Regions from separate parts of the Homo sapiens genome. Here region 2 is linked to region 1. Evidence: fine-mapped expression QTL. A gene starts in region 1. The other region holds a variant in brackets. All regions are shown on one strand. Distances are between the middles of the regions.

Region 1 (9,416 bases):
GCATGCACCACCACGCCTGGCTAATTTTGTATTTTTAGTAGAGACGAGGTTTCTCCATGTTGGTCAGGCTGGTCTCGAACTCCTGACCTCAGGTGATCTGCTAGCCTTGGCCTCCCAAAGTGCTGGGATTACAAGCATGAGCCACCACACCCGGCAATTTTCCAATTTTCTTAGGCAATTAAGATATGTGTGTGCTCCCGTTAGAATGGCGATCATTAAAAAGTCAGGAAACAACAGATGCTGGAGAGGATGTGGAGAAACAGGAACACTTTTACACTGTTGGTGGGACTGTAAACTAGTTCAACCATTGTGGAAGACAGTGTGGCAATTCCTCAAGGATCTAGAACTAGAAATACCATTTGACCCAGCCATTCCATTACTGAGTATATACCCAAAGGATTATAAATCATGCTGCTATAAAGACACATGCACACGTATGTTCACTGCAGCACTATTCACAATAGCAAAGATTTGGAACCAACCCAAATATCCATCAATGATAGAATGGATTAAGAAAATGTGGCACATATACACCATGGAATACTATGCAGCCATAAAAAAAGGATGAGTTCATGTCCTTTGTAGGGACATGGATGAAGCTGGAAACCATCATTCTCAGCAAACTATCGCAAGGACAAAAAACCAAACACCACAGGTTCTCACTCATAGGTGGGAATTGAACAATGAGAACACTTGGACACAGGAAGGGGAACATCACACACTGGGGCCTGTCGTGGGGTCGGTGGAGCAGGGAGGGATAGCATTAGGAGATATACCTAATGTAAATGACGAGTTAATGAGTGCAGCACACCAACATGGCACATGTATACATATGTAACAAACCAGCATGTTGTGCACATGTACCCTAGAACTTAAATTATAATAAAAAAAGATATGTGTGTGCTGTAATAATCAGAGAGTATCAATACAAGCAGGAGATGAATAGTAATGCATTTGATAAGTGCCACAGGTGCTCAGAGAAAAAAAACACACCCGGGTAACCTGGAAAAATCTGTCCAGGGAAGAAAGTGGGAAAAGGGATAGGCATTTCCTATCCCATGGTTGTAGAAAGTATCTGAGTAGAGATGAACATTTCAGCATTCCAGAAGAGGTAAACAATTATTGCATAACCTGGTGAAAAACTCTCTGAAATGTTATATAAAGTATCAAAATGGTCACTGAGGTCACCAAGCTTTTTCAAATATTAGTGTTTTTCAAGATTTGTCTTCTGAGACAGATGAGCTTTTCCCCCCTCCCATGCAGTGAGGGAGGACTTGTGTGTTCATTCAGTTATACAGCACGGGATAAAGTTCATTGGTATACTGGGTGCCTGAAACCAGCCCTGAATGCATCCTCTTTCTGTGTGTAGCAGCCAATTGAGAGATTACAAAGAAAATCCTTAAACAGAAGTAAAGCAGGGTTTTACTACCATCAGGGGAAGAGGTCACATTAAAAAAAGGTTGCCAACTGGTTGGCAACCTTTTTTTTTCTTTTTTGAGATGGAGTCTCACTCTGTCATCCAGGCTGGAGTGCAGTGGCACAATCTTCGCTCATTGCAACTTCCGCCTCCTGGATTCAAGCGATTCTCCTGCCTCAGCTTCCCAAGTAGCTGGGATTACAGGTGCCTGCCACCACACTCGGACAGTTTTTGTATTTTTAGTAGGGGTTTCGCCATCTTGGCCAGGCTGTTCTCGAACTCCTGACCTCGAAGATCCCCCTGCCTCGGGCCCCCCAAAGTGCTGGGACTACAGGCGTGAGCCACCGTGCCTGGCCAGCTTTTTCTAACACTAAGCAGCAGCAACTGGCCCCCACCTCCCACCCACAAACCCAAGTCCCCAGGGGCAGCTTCTTAGTATGTATTCTCTGAAACAATCCCATGTAGAAGCTCTTTCCAATAAGCTAAATAATGAACTCCCACTTAAACACCATTCTAATTTACACCTAAATCACACAAGCATCCTCCTTCTAAGAAGACGTCATAATCGTTTTGAAAATCATTGCAAAATTCCCAAACTTGAAAAAAAAGAAAAAAAAAAGGGCAAGTGTCTGGCAATTGGATTATTGGTCTCTAAGACCACTCATCCTTTCAGAGGTATCCAGCATTGGATCCCTGGCCTGGCTTCAACTTCCAAGTAACTAAGATGTGTCCCATTAATAGCCCTTCCTCCTTTTCTCTCCTCACCTTCACTCCAACCGGCAGCAAACTGTCCCTACCCACCCGACCCACAGTTCCTTTGGAGGCAGCACAGATTTCCTGGCAGCCAGTCCCAGGGTCTTTCGTTGCTGCCCTCCTGTGACCTCTAGACATTGCTCTCCTGGGCCACATAGGATTTGTTTGTTCTGCACAGGTAGGGATGTCTGAAAAACTCGATTATTATTGTTATTATCACTATTACTACTACTACTATGACATAATTTTAAGCACTTACGTTCCGGACGCAGTTACTAAATGCTGAACCTGAATTGGTTCCTATAAACCTCGTTAAAAAACAAACAAACATCTCAGTGAAGCAGGTACTAAACCTACCCCCGCATCACAGGTGAGGACACCGACGCACAGAGCAGTTAGGCAGCTTGCCAGGTTCCCGACTTTTTCTATTTCTTTTTTTTTTTTTTTTTTTTTTGAGACGGAGTCTCGCTGTGTCGCCCAGGCTGGAGTGCAGTGGTGGATCTCGGCTCACTGCAACCTCCGCCTCCTGAGTTCAAGCGATTCTTGTGCCTCGGCCTCCCGAGTAGCTGGGATTACAGGCGCCTGTCACCAAGCCCAGCTAATTTTTGTATTTTTAGTAGAGAAGGGGTTTCGCCATGTAGGCCAGGCTGCTCTCGAACTCCTGACCTCAGGTGCTCTACCTGCCCTGGCCTCCCAAAGTGCTGGGATTACAGGCGTGAGCCACCGCGCCCGGCCTGGTCCCGAGTTAATCTACGGCAGGCCGCGGTTCGAATCCCGCTGGTGTGAGCCGCGGGCCGCGTAGTGCCGGCCCAGGGAACCGCTTTGTCCCCGACCACCGCTCGCGTGGCATCGCGCCCGAGGAAACTTGGATCGCTGGCGCCGCGGGCTACGTTCAGTGGTTGCCAGAGAGACACGTGACCGGCAGCGGGGGCGGGGCCTGCAGGGAGCCACGCCCCGCACAGTTAACAGACGGGCGCTCAGGGAGCTAGGGAGCTGTGAAGCTGCTGGAGGAGTTGGCGTCCGGGGAGCAAGGGCCATGGCCACCGTGCAGGAGAAGGCTGCTGCGCTGAACCTCTCGGCTCTCCACAGCCCCGCGCACAGGCCTCCGGGTAGGTGCCGAGGACTGCCGCCTGGGATGGCGCGGGGCGGGCTGGGGTGCGCGGGCTGGGTCCCGGCGCGGGGCGGGCGGCGTGGGGCGTTCGGCCGCCTGCGCCTGTCAACGGCCGGCTGGGCGAGCACAGCACAGCTGCGACCACTTGGCCAACGCCCCCGCCGAGCGGGCGGATCGAGTTCCTCTCTGGCTGGTGGGCTGCAAGCGGCAGAGCCCGCCCGCACAGCCCAGCTTTTTTCTTTCTACCCAGACTCTCAACTTGACCGCGCGTTGGTCTGTGCGCCCGCTAACGTGCCAGGCACGCGCCGGGGAGCTCCGGGATATGCTCCGCGGTGCTACCGGTGACAAGTGTGGTATCTGGAATTTGTGTAGTTCTTTGCCCCCTGTCTCAACCACAAACCTTGACGACACAGTATGGCCAGGGGCCGAGCTCCTCCCTTGCCCACTTTGTTCTCCAGACTGCTAGGAGTCAAGAGTCAGCTTGTCTCCCCAGACTCTTCCTGGGAGGGATGAGAGGTTTATGTGAGTTCTACTGGCAGGAATTTGGCATAAAAGGTATTTATTAACACTTTATGTATAAGCAGTATTTTAGTGAATAGAAGTTTTTGGCTAAAAAAACAGTTACATGAAATTAGGAGGGAAGTTGGCAAATTCTGCCACGGGCCTAATCGTGTCTTTTGGGGGCAGTTGATTTAGGATTCTGGTTTCTTTAAATGTTCAAACACATGAAGAGAATCGGATATCACTTCTAAAATGCTGGTTATAGCAGATCTACAACCCAGTTAATAGGGGTGACTCAGATAACTGTTAAGATACTCAGATAACCCTTGGCTTTTTTCTTTTGGTTAAGTTACAACTTTTTCCCCTTTCTGGAGCTCCAGTCTGGGATGTCGTAGGAATTAGTTCCCTTTCTGACAAAAGCCTTTCATTTGTAAAAACACCAACCAGTGAAACTGTGATTCCTTCCTCTGGGTCAAATGGGTGCTTCTCAGTGGCCCCACTCTTGTGTTTGACTTACTCACTAATGCTCATTTTAATCTTCAAAATGCTAACGACAGATTATGGTAGAGAACCATTTTTCACTTGTCCTTTTCTAAGAAAAATCATAATATTGACCTTAGTCTGCTTCCATGTAAAGGATTCAGGTAAGCACATAGTGGCCACATTGAGAATGTCTCCTTGATTTATGTTGTGAAGAGAAGACAAATGCTAAGACATTTGGGAATTTAAAACCAAATGACATTGAAAACAGTCTTGAGAAATCTTTTGGGCCCACTTACTCAGTGAAGGAAATTCCCAAATGTCACCTGCTTAAAATAAAAACATGGTACCCTGTTTTCTCTAATAGCTGAAATACCAATTCTGGAGCTTTGGGCATTTGTGAACAGGTTCTTAGATGGTGTAAGGAAGTATGTATTCAGAAATTAAGTAGATAACTCTCTAAGGGAAGAGTTGAAGTGCTGGTTATCAGGAATCAAAGGAACACTGTCCTCGGCACACTAGCTGCAGTGGACGGAGAGGGGCCCGCTGTTGTTCTCACTCGTTTTGCTTGCTACCGCTGGAATCCCGACCTGGTAACATTTGTTAGCCTTTCTTTCACCCTTTAGTTGCCTTGTCATAGTTCCAGTGAGCAAGGTAGTGGGAGCACACGGTTATTGGTTCTTTGCCATTCTCTTTCTGTGTGCTCTGGCAGGCAGCTTTGTACTTTTGTTTCTCCACCGATTAGTAACTCTCACTTACCTTAAAGGGGCTGTAATGACCAGGGACCTGATTTATGTACAAGAAATGAGATCTATATGCCAGTCTTCAGCCAGTATGTCAAAAACACTTGTCTTTTAATACGACAAACAAGAAAGTAGTCTGTTATCCTGTTATCCCTTTATACTGTAACCTAATTCTTTGAGTTTGCCTGGTATCACTTTTCCAGGGAGCTCAAAGTACTTCCCATATGCTGTCTCATTAATGTATGTGAATTAAAGCAGAGACCAATGTCTGCTTTTGCTGATAATTCTCGTAGATATTGTAAATTTTTCTTGTTGGTAGACTTCTTTTACCTACCTGCAGCCTTCTTTTCAGAGGCAATCGCAGTCTTCAGCATGACGCCTCTAATGCCAACTAGCAGGAAAATAAACTTTGGACTACCAGAACCAATATCCAGTAAAAGTGTTGTAATCTTGGGATCATAGTATAGAAAATTTTTCCACTCAGTCACAACTGTCAAGTTTTAACACCATAAACACAATTCTCTTTACATTTATCTATTAATATTTTCATGAGGTTTTGGTTACTATCCAACAAATGTCCTTTTTCTTTGTTGTCTTGACAATTCTTTGTGTGAGTAATATTTTAAAACCTCTTTTGAAAAAATCTTTCTTAAAATTCTCTTAAATCCTAAATGGTCTAGGATTTATAGATGTGTTATTTTCTGATGAAAAGTTAAATCCTCTGGTATGTGTCACATCTTGTCTTCTCATCTCCTGTTGGCCTTTATGTGATTGAATACTATTCAGAACTTGACATTATCATCCAGGTAGTAGGAGTAAATAAAAGGTAAACTCCTAAGGTTGGGGACTGTGTCCTCTGAGTTCAGAGGAAGGAAGAGGAAGAAAGATACCTCCCTTTTCTTTCTACTTTTAAAATAAAATTTTAGATTCACTAAATAGTATGGTCCATTTGTCATAATTAATGAACCAATATTGATACATATAATTATTAACTGAAGTCCACACTTAGATTCCCTTGGTGTTTGCCTAATGTTCTCTTCCAGGATCCCATCCAAGATATTATATTACATTCAGTTGTCATGTAATGAATCTACTCTTCTAGACTGTGACAGTTTGCTCCTTTTGTTTTTAGTGATACATCTGTTAATTTCTGGACATTTTGCGAGACACATTAACATATTGTCTCATGATCCTCGCAATGAGTGAGAGAAGTGGAGTTAGCTCTGTTTTGCAACAGAAAAGTTAGGCAGTTTGCCCAAGATCGTGTTATTAGTAAATGATGGACCCAACAACGGAACTCAGGTCCCTGGGACTGCAGAGTCCACACTGGTCTAACTCTTTGTAGTCACAGCACCTAGCACTGTGTCTGCTGCGTTAACTCAAGTTTCCATGTCTGAACAGTATTCAGTCAACCCAAGGTTTCTTAACCTTGGCACTACTGACGTTTTCTTTGTTGTGGGTGCTGTCTGTGCATTGTAAGATGTTTAGTAGCATCCCTCTACCCACTGGATGCCAGCAATACCCACACTCATTGTGACAATCAAAAATGTCTCCAGACATGTCCTGTTGGGGGTATAATCACCCACTGAGAACCACTGGGTTAACCTTCCTTTAAAAATTTTTTTTATGAACGGGGTGTAGTGGCTCACACCTGTAATGCCAGCACTTTGGGAGGTTGAGGCAGGTGGATCATTTGAGGCCAGGAGTTTGAGACCAGCCTGGCCAATGCGACAAAACCCCATTTCTACTAAAAATCCAAAAATTGTCTGGGTGTAGTGGCGCACACCTGTAATCCCAGCTACTCAGGAGGTTGAGGCAGGAGAATCGCTTGAACCCAGGAGGCAGAGGTTGCAGTGAGCCGAGATCACACCACTGCATTCCAACCTGGATGACAAAGTGAGACTCTGTCTCAAAAAAGAAAAAAAAGTAAGTTTTTTAGTAGTTAGCAATAATTAACAACTAACAAATATTGACTAACCAATTGTATTATATTGAGGCAATCTGTAAGGCAATTAAATAATTTAAACCTCTGTAAACCGCTAGGAAATCTGAAAGAAATCGGGCACTAGCTCACCATCTCTTAAAAGTTTTATGGAGAAACATCAACTGTCTGGATTCAGTTCCTTTTTTTTTTTTTTTTTTAAGTCCAGTCTAAAGACCGAGAATGGAAACAAATTTGTTATATGTTCATTAAGAGGTAGTGTGTTTTATTAATTCTGTGTGTATGTTTACCTTACATTGGGATCCAATTTTATAATGTGTATATTGATCTACTTCTAAAGATTTAATATAATCTTACTATTTGAAGTGATTATACAATTGTTTTCCCTTTAAATAGGTTTTCATAGGTTTTCACAGTAGGACTAGGGTTGCTGACAGGGTGGATTATGGTTGATGCTGATTATCCCTAATTTTTGGGTAAATGTAATTTCTTTACATTTTTAGGGAATTATTATGACTCAGTTATTTAGTGTGAATTCTTAGAAGTGAGGATGATTATTACTGGTACTACACGTATATATAAGTGTTCAATATTATCTTAGAAGTTTAACTTTTACTTTTGGTAAACGTTTTTTATGGTAGAGTTCAAATACATGTGAAGGGCAGCTTTTGAAAAATAGCTATTGTTTTCAAGCAAATAAGGATGAGACTGCTTGAAAAATGAAGGTTAACTAGCCTAGATTTATATAGTGCTTGAGACTATGTGTTGAAGGCTAGATAATCAAATTATTCCTGAGCCTCCTTAGGCAACCTTCCAAAAGGTTTTGTATCTGGTAGGGTCAAATTTGTCCATATGCTTCCTTTCTTGCCTATAGATCTGCCATATTTGGTGTTCAATGTCCTTATCTAAATGGAGGAGATATAATTTCAGTCTTTACATTCCTATAATCAGTTTATTTAAAGACAGGATCTCACTCTGTCACCCAGGCTGGAGTGCAGTGGTGCGATCCTAGCCCACTGTAACCTCGAACTCCTGGCCTCAAGCAATCTTCCCGCCATGGCCTCCCAAAGTCCTGGGGTCAGAGGCATGAGCCACTGTGCCTGCCCTGGCAGTTTAGACCTGAAACTAACCTAAAATATTGTGTTCAACTATTTTATCAGTAGATAAAGAAACCTACTTACAGAGATTGTCTCTTATCCAGAGTTTTTACAGCTGATCTCTAAACTCTTTGATTCCATTTGTTATGATGCTTTTAGAAAATGCTTGACCAGGCTGGGTGTGGTGGCTCACACCTGTAATCCCAGCACTTTGGGAGGCCGAGGTGGGTGGATCACGAGGTCAGGAGTTCCAGACCATCCTGGCCAACATGGTGAAACCCTGTCTCTACTAAAAATACAAAAAAAAATTAGCTGCACGTGGTGGCGCGTGCCTGTAATCCTAGCTACTTGGGAGGCTGAGGCAGGAAAATCACTTGAAGCAGGGAGTTGGAGGTTGCAGTGAGCCAAGATCGCACCACTGCACTCCAGCCTGGCGACAGAGTGAGACACCATCTCAAAAAAAAAAAAAGAAAAAAAAGAAAATGCTTGACCAAATGTAAGGAAGCATCAAGATGTAGATAGTGATGGATTTTAAAAGGTTGTTTAGCTCATATGAAAGTGAGGTTTGAGGACAAGCTGAACCCTTAATTCTGATTGCAAGACTTAAAAAACATTCATTGTCTATTTTTGGTCTCTTAAATCCTGTTTAGAAATCACAGTAAGTCATCTTACTGGGCCATGATCTGCTATACCAATATTCATTTCAGCTTTTAAATGACGATAAATAAGTTTCAAACCATATATGTTCAGCTGGTGAAGTCAGCATTTTAAAAAGCAGGTTATCCTGGTATGGGTTTTGGCACATTTACTTGTCAAGTCCAGGGTACATTGTGTATGAAAGCATCTGTATGAACATGAGCTAGTTTGTGGGTGGTGGTGCTTGAAGGGAAATATCCCAGGATGCAATGGTTGGGAATTAATGGTCAGTGAGAACAGAGGGGACCTGTGAGGGCTGCATTGTATCATGCCTGGAGGACTCTGGAAACCTGTGGTTCACAGGTGTCTACTCTCCTGCTCTAACTAGTTCTTTAATCTTTTATGCAGTGTTATACAACCTGCAGAACCTCCTGATTTCCCACAAGTTAATATGGGGAAATTTATTCTTTACCTCTTAATTCTTCTGTGAAGATTAGCCTTTTCTACTCATTGAGGCCAAATATCCCCTCTCACCGCCCTCTTCAGCTGTCTTACTGATCTGTAATTAATAAGTGACTCAGCCTTGTCATTTAGGATTTGTGTGCTAACCTACTTATAGCTCAAGTGTTATGACTTATGTGTTTCATCTTTATATTATCACTAGTCCAAAAGTCTGTCTCATTGGTTCTTAAAAGGCAGTCTGATTGAAGTTTGAATCTTGCATGTCTTCCTTTTC
Region 2 (10,831 bases), 60 kb after region 1:
GGATTACAGGCGTGAGCCACCGCGCCTGGCCACTCATGCATTCATTCTTGCATTCCAAGTGTGTTTGAGCTTCTCCTGGGAGCTGGGTCTCATGCCAGTCACTGTGCTGAGTGCTGAGGAGACATGATGAACAAGATGAGCATGGCTCCTACCTTCATGAAACTAACCATCTAGAGGGGAGAGAAAACATTATAAATGGGATGAATATGCAGAAGTGCAAGGTGCTGTGGGTATCTGGTCTGGGAGTATTGATCGGGGACAACTTCCCCTAAGAGGTGATGGTTAAGCTAAGAACTGAAGCACAGTAAGGTTTGTAAGGTGAAGGACAAGAAACAACTGACCACTTTCTTTTTTGTCACAGAATCTCGAATCCTGACCTTCTTAGAAACCTACCTTGCCTCGGGTCATCAGAAGCCATTGCCCACAGTCCCTGGGGGACTCAGTCCAGTTCAGAGAGAGCTGGAGGAAGTTGCTATTAAATTTGCTCGCCTGGTCAACTATAACAAGATGGTCTTCTGTCCCTACTACGATGCAATCCTGAGTAAGATCCTCGTCCGATCCTAACGTGTATGCACCCTACAGCAGCAGTATTACTCACTAGCCACAGAATACCTGTTCTGTACTCTAATGTTGCATTGGAAAATGGCTATATAGTACATGTCTATTTAACAGCACCGATTCCAAAGGGAAGAATATTGTGTATCACTGTTGAAAAGACTTGTTGAGAAATCCACTGAATTCTATTTTGAGAGATTGTATTTATGAGTGCAAGTTTACAAATCAAAGAAGCATTTTGTTCTCGAGTTTTACAGGTAACACTCAGCTGTTGTCTCCACTCCTCCCCCATCATGTCCTTCCAAGGAGGCTGGGACCTCTCTCTTCTGCAATCTGGGTAGTTCTTTCAGATGCCTCATGCTGAGCTGACGGCCATCCAAGCGCAAAAGAGACCAAGCCATGGCCTCACCTCCTGCCCTCCCTCAGACAGCCTTGTCCCTCACCCCTCCCTTCTGGTATTTTTGTTAGAAGGGCTATATAACGTCTTATTGCCATTTTCTCCCCCTATTTATTGCTTCCTCCCTGCCTGGCCTAGCCAGGGCTCCCAAGCCCTTTTTTCTAGAGGAGAGTTATTTGTCTCTCTCTCTTTTTTTTTTTACTTTCTTTTTTGTATTTAAACATTCTTTTAACCTTCCCCCAAAGATACAGTTATTGGACTTTAAAAAGCTTGTTCTTTTATACAAAATTACTCCTGCATCTGGTTGAGAGCAGTTATGACTTATGAGATCTAGTGAAAGGAAAGTCTTTGACTTTCAAGCCTTGAAAGTCAAGGAGGAAATGTATTGAAAAATAGTTTACTGTAATGTGAACGAAGAGAAATGTCTGGAATTCTTACTGAAAAATTGACCCTGAGACAATACACAGATGTGATGATTGAATTAAATTCTGGAATTAGATTTAACTGTTTTCAGATAAAATAGCTTGAGTTCACGAATCTCCTAGATGAGGAAGTCATAGGAAATCCCTGGTGTTTGAGCATTATTTTTCAAGGAACTTCAGTGACCAGAATTCCTGACATGTCCTCTGAGCGTGAGTGATTTGGGTCTCATAGACGATCTGTTCTTTTTTTTTTTTTTTTTTTTTTTTTAAAGTGTACACATGTATGTCTGCATTTTAGACAGGGATGTTATATTAGAAGCAGAGCCATGAAGTTGGAATGACCAACTGCCACAACAGCAAGGGGTAAGACTATATTACTGTATGAGTAATGCAGTAATATCGGCACCTGAAGCCTTCTGTACAGGAAGCTAAGAGAAACTTACAAGTTAGCCGGGCGTGGTGGCTCACGCCTATAATCCCAGCACTTTGGGAGGCCGAGGCAGGCAGATCACCTGAGGTCAGGAGTTTGAGACCAGCCTGGGCAACATGGTGAAACCCCATCTCTACTAAAAATACAAAAATTAGCTGGGTGTGGTGGCACGCGCCTGTAATCCCAGCTACTTGGGAGGCTGAGGCAGGAGAATCGCTTGAACCCGGGAGGCAGAGGCTGCAGTGAGCTGAGATAGCACCACTACATTCCAGCCTGGGCAACAGAGTGAGACTCTGTCTCAAAAAAAGAAAAAAGAAAAGAAACTTGGAAGCCATTTCAGAAAGACTCCAGGAAGGCCAGCAGCCACTCCTGCACAACCAGGGGGAAGGGCTACATTTTACTGCAAGCAGCTGTTTTCTCTGATCCTTCTTTGTAAGGAAGTGCAGTGATTTTGTGTTTTGAAGGAAGACTTGAAGAAGCAGTTGGGTAGGTATTCCAATAGGACTGATGGGGAGGAAATCAGATACTCCATGAGAAGGATTTCAGACCTGGTAGAGTCAGAATACATTCTGCTTTCAGGATTTTTGAGATTGCTGATGGTCCCAGGGTTTATACAAGGACTTGGATCTGGCTATAGAAACTCAGGTAGAAATTACATGTATGCAGATCAGCACTGATGTTGGTTCTAATCTATAATGATGTGATAAATTAAAAAAACAAAACAAAAAACAGGGCTGGGCATGGTGGCTTACACTATAATCCCAGTACTTTGGAATGCCAAGGCAGGAGCATCATCTGAACCCAGGATTTCAAGTCCAGCCTAGGCAACATAGTGAGATCATGTCTCTACAAAAAATACAAAAAAAATTAGCCTGTTGTGGTGGCACACAGTTGTACTCCCAGCTACAAGCTGAGGCTGAGGCAAAAGGATCACTTGTGCCCAGGAGTTTGAGGCTGCAGTGAACTATGATCATGCCACTGTACTCCAGCCTGGGTGACAGAGCCAGACCCTGTCTCTCCTTAACAAAAAAAAGTAGAGCCAGATGTATCTTTTTGGGTCCCAGGCAGGAGACTGGAGAATCTGGGTCACTGTAATCTGGCAGACTGGCTGCATTTTGTGAGGGTACTTTTATTCATATTTATTTATTTTTGTTTGTTTGAATGCATTATTATTTTTTTAATAGAAACCACATCACTTCATTTGTTACAGCGAATAATTCAAGAGGGTCCCAGAAAGCTTTTTCATCCACAGAATTACAGAAAGGATAAGCACCCTCACCACCCAAGCCTTTGGTTCATTTTTTATTTTTTCAAGACGGAGTCTTGCTCTGTCACCCAGGCTGGAGTGTGGTGGCGCGATCTCAGCTTACTGCAACCTCCATCTCCCGGTTTCAAGCGATTCTCCTGCCTCAGCCTCCTGAATAGCTGGGATTACAGGCACGCGCCACCATGCCCGGCTAATTTTTGGATTCTTAGTAGAGACGGGGTTTCACCATGTTGGCCAGGCTGGTCTCGAACTCTTGACCTCGTGATCCATCCGCCTCGGGCCTCCCAGAGTGCTGTGATTACAGTCGTGAGCCACCACACCCGGCCTGTCTTTAAGTTTTATACTAGTTAGGAGGCTAGTCTATCAGAATGTCCCTAATTTAGCTGAGGAACCTAGACAAGTCTTCCTTGATTTCAGCTTCATCCCAAGGCCTCTGAATATTTTCTTTAAAAAGCTGCAGGCGAATGAGGTAAAATGGACAGAGACATGAGATAGAAATCAACAGAAGGGCAAAGAGTACGGCTCCCACAGCACTAATAGGCAGTAGGCCTTCCAAGACCGAAAAGGCAAAAAGCAGTGTGACCACCACATAGCCCTTGGGAGTCCGTGCCTTTAGTTTCTTCTGTAGCATGAGCCACAGGACAAAAATCTGGATGGCAAGTGTTCCCATGATGAAGACATGCAGGGACTGGGGAAGGTGGAAGCCAAGCATCCAGAAGCAAAGATGGCCATGTTCAAGGATAGTGTGCTGGATACAGTGGATACAAAGGCATCATTGGCACCATAGTTAAAAAAGATGAGGTGGCCTACCAGCATGAAGACTGACATGGCATAGATGGTGTCAGTGCTGACAGACTCTGTCAGGGTCTTAGCACTGGTGAAAAGCCATAAGTGAAAGTAATGAAGACTAGGGCACTCTTCAGGTCAGCCCACCGGGTCCACCCACTCTTCTGCCCTTCACCTCCATCAGTGAGATCAAACAAAACATACCCAATCAGTGAAGAAGCCAGGCCAGTCCCAAAAAGCCATTGGGGGGCCAGAAGACCCTCATCCATATACCACCAGATAACCAGAAAAACAAAAACACTGCACAGCTGCGGGATCACCACACTGGACTCAAATACCATAGCCCAATATTGGTATTTCCGAGCATGGATGTTTTTCCAGAGCTCTTCCAGGAACCGCCGGTCCACAAAGTTATCAGGAAAGGGCTGTTGCTCATACAAGACCCTCTGCCACTTTACCTCCTTGGTGTTTGTTACAGGTTGGGTACACATAATCCTTTCATTCAAACTCAGGCTAGTTTAATCATCCCTCTCACAGAGGTCCATGTGGTTCTTGTTGATGACATTTTGAAATGAGACCTCCCTGGAAATTCCATGCCTTGGTTGATATTCTGCTGACCTTTCCTTGTTTTCAAAGGCAGCAATCCAGGCCAGGCCTACAATAGATGAGTTTGTCTCTGAGGCAGGATATAATACAGCCAAGTTCCTGGGGATGCGTGACTGGGAGATGGCAGTTGCCTGCCTTTTTCCTTGTAAGG[G/GT]TTTTTTTTTTTTTTGAGATGGAGTCTTGCTCTGTCGCCCAGGCTGGAGTGCAGTGGCGCGATCTCGGCTCACTGCAACCTCTGCCTCCCAGGTTCACGCCATTCTCCTGCCTCAGCCTCCCAAGTAGCTGGGACTACAGGCGCCTGCCACCATGCCTGGCTAATTTTTTTGTATTTTTAGTAGAGACGGGGTTTCACCGTGTTAGCCAGGATGGTCTCGATCTCCTGACCTCGTGATCCACCCGCCTTGGCCTCCCAAAGTGCTGGGATTGTAGGCGTGAGCCACTGCGCCCTGCCATGAGGGTACTTTTAAAGAAGATAACATCTTCCATGGTGTATTCAATGAGGTCGTGTCTGGAATTGTTCCCTTAAGGTGGAGGCTGCTCTGTGGCCACTGTGCCTGGCGGTTGTATGATCCTGGGTTCCTGGGCAGAGAAGCCTCAGCCTCAGAGTGTTTGGGGCCTTTTCCTGCCGCTCCAAGGCTGAAGGAGAGGAGCTTAACCCCAACTGCACAGCGCTGATCACCACTTCCTGCAGTCATTCTTCCTAAATCTCAAAAACTCTTCTTTTGTAAGAGTAGATTCTTGCAAGATATTTTTCCCCTCCTGAGTTCTTACATTGCCAGAGTTCCATTTGGACCGTTTGAAATCTTGATGCATGAATAACTGGCTTCACAGACTCTTGGCCGCCCACTACCTCGGTGTCCACTGGTGGAGTTCTGCAACTGGCAAAAGTCAAGAATGAAGGAAGCAAACTTCAGAACCACAATATTCATATTGAATCATTTTGTTGTTGCTCTATGAAGATAAGCTAATTTTCTTCCTGGAATCTCATAGGATTATTACTAAGGGCCAGGGAGATCCACTTCGTTCATTTAGTCACTCAGGAAGCATTGCTAAGCATCCCCCTGTACCTTCCCCTACAGCTCTCCTTCCAAAACGAAACATCCTTTGGAGTGTGTTGTCCTCCAGAATCGAATGGATTCTATATGCTGCATTCAGTAACAGGTTGTGGAGACAAGTGTCTTTTCCTGAAATTGCTAAGTGTATTTGGCAGTACTTTACTACTTGTGGATAGAACTGAGAGTGAGGTCAGTATCACCAAGCCTCTTGGATTTCTTCAGTAGTCTCATGGATAAGTGAATGTTTAAAGTAACTACTACTTTGTTGGCTCTTGGTTGGGTGGATGGATTCTCAGTCCTGGTGTTTTTAAAAATCTCATTCCAGCCGGGCGCGGTGGCTCACGCCTGTAATCCTAGCACTTTGGGAGGCTGAGGCGGGCAGATCACCTGAGGTCAGGAATTCGAAACCAGCCTTACCAACATGGCAAAACCCATCTCTATTAAAAATACAAAAATTAGCCGGGTGTGGTGGCACGTGCCTGTAATCCCAGCTACTCGGGAGGCTGAGGCAGGAGAATCACTTGAACCCTGGAGGTGGTGGTTGCAATGAGCCGAGATTGCGCCATTGCACTCTAGCCTGGGTGACAGAGCGAGACTCCGTCTCAAAAAAAAAAAAAATCGCATTCCGTCTAAAGCAAGCTACAAAATGTGATTATTTATGTCACGATATGACCCAGCCATAAATGTACTTCAGGTAAGAAGGACACTGACATGATATCTTACTGATCAAATGCAGTCAGTAGGTATATATGAACTTTTTTCTCTGTGAAGAAAAGCTATTAATAAGTTTGACTTAATAGGCCTATAGTATGCACATACTGGCCAAGATTCTAAATGGATTATTCAGCGGTTCTGTTTTTGTGGAGGTGCTTATTCTCATTTCTCCAAAGCCTTAAGATTCCTGGGAATAGAGGAAATGTTGCTGCCACCAGCTTTGCTGGTGAATTTCAAAGAGAATAGGTGTTTGCTGTTTGATTTCTAGTGACCTTTTGGCGAGCTCTGATTTATAGGTAGAACATTTGTGTTTCTTTTCATTTTGAGGCCAGGTGGTAGAGTGGAAAGACTGGGAGCTGTCAGGAAACCAAGGCTTGGATCTCCACTCTGTTATGTACCAGCTGGGGCAAATCAGGGCCCATTCCCAACTCCTTTAAAATGAAAGGACTAGACTTGGTCTTTAAGCTCCCTTCCGATTCTAACATTTGGTGGTAGCAGGATTGTGCACAAAGCTCCTAATTTAGAGAAAGATCTGGGTTTTAGTCTTTTCTCCTCTATCGCCGCCTTACCGGTTGTACAACATTGGACCAGCCATTCTCCCCAAGGCCTCGGCATTTTCATTGTTAAATGGGAACACTCCTAATTCACACTGTTGCTGTGAGGATTACATTTGGTAATGAATGATAGAATGCTTTGTACATGGAAAAGGACTATACCTTTCTTTTTTAACTACAAAGGCGAACATGTAACCCTCTACCTGTGGGCGCACATTTGCTGTGGTGTTACGTTCCACTGGTAGCGCCCAACCTCCCTTCATTCAAGCACATTTTACGGGCCTACAGGGAAGGTTTTCTTCCTGTCCTCTCCTAAGACTTGTTTATGTTCATCATCTCTTCTATACTAGAGCTGCAGTCTTACATTTGCTTACTTCCTGACATCCACCCCCACCCCAGTGATTTCTCCCCATCTCCACCTCTATATTATTTGAACTAAATGAATTCATGAATGAACAAATGAGTGGATGAATGAATGGTAATGGATAATGGGCTATGAAGTCATATTTAAAGGCACTATCTCATTTAAAAACAATCTAAATAAATAACTACAATGATATTTGCAAGTGTGTATTTATATTGGATTTTGCATTATATAATTATTTTAATGGAAAGCCTTTTTAGTCATAGTATTCAAAGCAACTTCAATGGGTGGGGAAGGGGATAATCTTTAAGCCCAGGTAAGCTCTGTTTATTAAACGATCAAGTGTTCACTGGTACTTTCAGAAATAGCCAGAGTTCTACAAAATATGTGTTAAAAGTCTAAACATATAATTCTACTTAAAACTGTCCCTCATGTGGGTTTCTGTCACACCTGACTTACATTTATTGCCTACCGAACTTAAGAACCAGAACTAAGCTATAGGCCTGGTTCGATGGAGTGTCACTTTTCTTGACTTAAAAGTAACCTTAAAACAAGAGGGGCTGGGCAAGGTGGCTCACGCCTGTAATCTCAGAACTTTGGGAGGCCGAGGCAGGCAGATCATTTGAGGCCAGGAACTCTAGACCGGCCTGGGCAACATGGCAAAACCTTGTCTCTACTAAAAGTACAAAAATTAGCCAGGCGTGGTGGCATAGGCCTGTGCTCCCATCTCAGCAGGCTGAAGTGGGAGGATTGCTCGAGCCCGGGAGGCAGAGGTTGCATTCAGCCAAGATCATGCCACTGCATTCCAGCCTGGGTGACAAAGTGAGACCCTATCTCAAGAAAATAAAAAATAAAAAAAAGAAGGGCTTCACATGGTGGCTAATCCCAGCAGTTTGGGAGGCTGACGTGGGAGGACTGCTTGAGCCCAGGAGGTCAAGACCAGGCTGGACAACACAGGTAGATCCTGTTTCTACATAAAATTTAAAAAATTAGCTGGGTATGGTGGATGGTGGTGCATGCCTGTGGTCCCAGCTACTTGGGAGGCTGAGGTGGGAGGATTATGCTGTGATCATGTCTCAAAACAAACAAAAAGACTTATGAAAATTTTTGTTTTCTTTTGTTTTGATTGTTTGTTTTTGAGATGGAGTCTCACTCTGTTGTCCAGGCTGGAGTGCAGTGGCACAATCTCAGCTCCCAAGCTCAAGCAATTCTCCTGCCTCAGCCTCCCCGAGTGGCTGGGATTACAGGTGTGCGCCACCATGCCCGGCTGATTTTTGTATTTTTAGTAGAGATAGGATTTCACCATGCTGCCCAGGCTGGTCTTGAACTCCTGACCTCAGGTGATTTGCTCGCCTTGGCCTCCCAAAGTGCTGGGATTATATATGTGAGCCACCGTGCCTGGCTGAAATTTTTATTAAGTAAAACGTAAGTTCACTTGCTCATTGCCACAGTCAAAGAACTACCATGTTAAAAAAAATAATAATAATAATTTATGACCATGATGACTATGGTTTAATAAAATTGAACTCAACATTTATTAACTATAGGCCAATACAGGGTTATAATATCAAATAAATTCATAATTATTGACCAGGGTCAATATACTAACAGAAATGATGTGTTTTTCCTTCTTTTTCTTTGGTACAGTTTGGTTGTTCAGAAAGTTTACTAGTAGTTTCTATTAACCTTTTACTGTACTAGATGTGGCCACATAGGTGCAACCTCTTGTTTGAAGTTTAGTGGTAAAGGCCAGAGTTTGACTAATTTTTGTTTAGGAAGGACATACATATAGTCCTTGAAACTTTTGTCTAGTTCTAGAATCTTGAGGAGATGCTGTCATTGCTTTTATAAACAGGAAAAAGATGGATATCTTTTGGCAATTTCTTTGGGTCCAGCAATACTGATATGAGTCCTTGGAATTGTAGGACTGATTATCCCATGAGTCTGCACATTAGATTTCCAAAGGTAAGTTCAGATGTCTAACATCATGCTGCTTGTTGAACTGTTTAACAAAAGGAATTATCAAATATCAGGCAGAATCACCTTAAAAACTAAAAATTCATACATATCTCTAGCAGTTAGAACATTCGAAAATGTTTTCTTCTAATGAGAATCCTTTTTATGCTCAAAGAGCTGATCATTTCTAGGAGAAAAAAATCCTATAAATAAATGCAATAGGAACAATTATAATATACATAGTAGCCTTAATAATAATTGATATGGTTTGAATCTGTGTCCCCACCAAATCTCATGTCAAATTGTAATCCCCAGTGTTGGAGGTAGGGCTTGGTGGGAGGTGTTGGTCCAGGGGGGTGAAGTTCCCATGAAAGGGTTAGCACCATCCTCTCGGTGCTGTTCTTGTGACAGTGAGTTCTCATGGAATCTGGTTGTTTAAAAGTGTGTGGCACCTCCCCCCTTTCTTCATCCTGCCCTGGCCGTGTAAAACGTCCCTCTTCCCCTTCACCTTCTGCCGTGATTATACATTTCCTGAAGCTTCTCCAGAAGCAAATGCCACTAATCTATCTATACAGCCTACGGAACCATGAGCCAGTTAAGCTTCTTTTCTTTAAAAATTACCCAGTCACAGGTATTTCTTTATAGCATTGTGGGAATGGACTAATAAAGTGATTAAAGACACTTTTCACCAAGTGTGTGTGTGCGTGTGTGCACGCACGCACGCGCACACACGCTAAAAAATGGTTTTTCACACATGTTCGCATGGCTTTGTTTTATTGTCTGTGGGAACACTTTGGCAGATCACTTACAGGTATTTGAAACTGTTTTGTCTTCTTTTTTTTTTTTTGAGACGGAGTTTCGCTCTTGATGCCCAGGCTGGAGTGCAATGGTGCGATCTCGGCTCACTGCAACATCTCCTTCCCAGGTTCAAGCAATTCTCCTGCCTCAGCCTCCCAAGTAGCTGGGATTGCAGGCATGTGCCACCATACCTGGCTAATTTTGTATTTTTAGTAGAGACAGGGTTTCACCATGTTGGTCAGGCTGGTCTTGAACTCCTGACCTCAGGTGATCCGCCTACCTTGGCCTCCCAAAGTGCTGTGATTATAGGCGTGCGCCACCTCGCCCGGCCTGTTTGTCTTCAAAACACTAACTGTGGAGTCCTAATTAGGGAAAGGGAGTCAGGCTGGTGGGAGCAGGGAAAAGCAGATAAATTATGAGTCTGCCTTTCTTCATGGTCCAGGACATGTAGCCGTACTGCACCCAACTTATCACCAGACACCTGCAAGTTAGCTCACTGCAACACTGGCATTCTCAGTAGTACATAAAACCCTCTTCAGCACATGGCACTATCTTATAAAATCCCCAGCAAGCCTTTGTCTCTTTGCAGACAAGCATCTTCTCTGCCTGTTCCAACCTTGCAGTGCATTTTCATACCTTCTCTAATCTACCTTTCTCTACCTACTATTGTCTTGGTAAATTCTTCTTACCCCCACACCACCAGCCCCAGATAGTCGCTGCTCACCCCCGATACTAACCACCAAAAATGGCACTTCAGGAACAAGTCTACACCTCTATATATTTTTTGAAGCAGGGTCTCACTCTTTCGCCCAGGCTGGAGTACAGTGGTGCAATCATGGCCCACTACAGCCTTGGCCTCCTGGGCTCAGGTGATCCTCCCACCACAGCCTGCAGAGTAGCTGGGACTACAGGCTTGTGCTACCATGCCCA

The links. PIP is the estimated chance that this variant, and not a neighbour inherited with it, causes the effect.
Region 2: its variant is fine-mapped to the expression of DEPDC7 in whole blood (INTERVAL, PIP above 0.99).

The regions. Positions count from the first base shown.
Region 1 is chr11:33,012,750-33,022,165 of GRCh38, forward strand. It overlaps DEPDC7 (DEP domain containing 7), which reads left to right and starts at 3,129. Exons shown (of 9, transcript NM_001077242.2): 1 at 3,129-3,279. The coding sequence starts at 3,207. LOC105376615 (a long non-coding RNA gene) reads right to left here and starts at 3,041. Exons shown (of 4, transcript XR_931167.2): 1 at 2,528-3,041. RefSeq lists silencers at 2,974-3,023, 3,344-3,403.
Region 2 is chr11:33,072,113-33,082,943 of GRCh38, forward strand. It overlaps TCP11L1 (t-complex 11 like 1), which reads left to right. Exons shown (of 10, transcript NM_018393.4): 10 at 362-1,438. The coding sequence ends at 564. It overlaps LINC00294 (long intergenic non-protein coding RNA 294), which reads left to right and starts at 4,038. Exons shown (of 1, transcript NR_015451.1): 1 at 4,038-7,342. It also overlaps the pseudogene PIGCP1. The variant G/GT (reference allele first, on the strand shown) is at 4,615.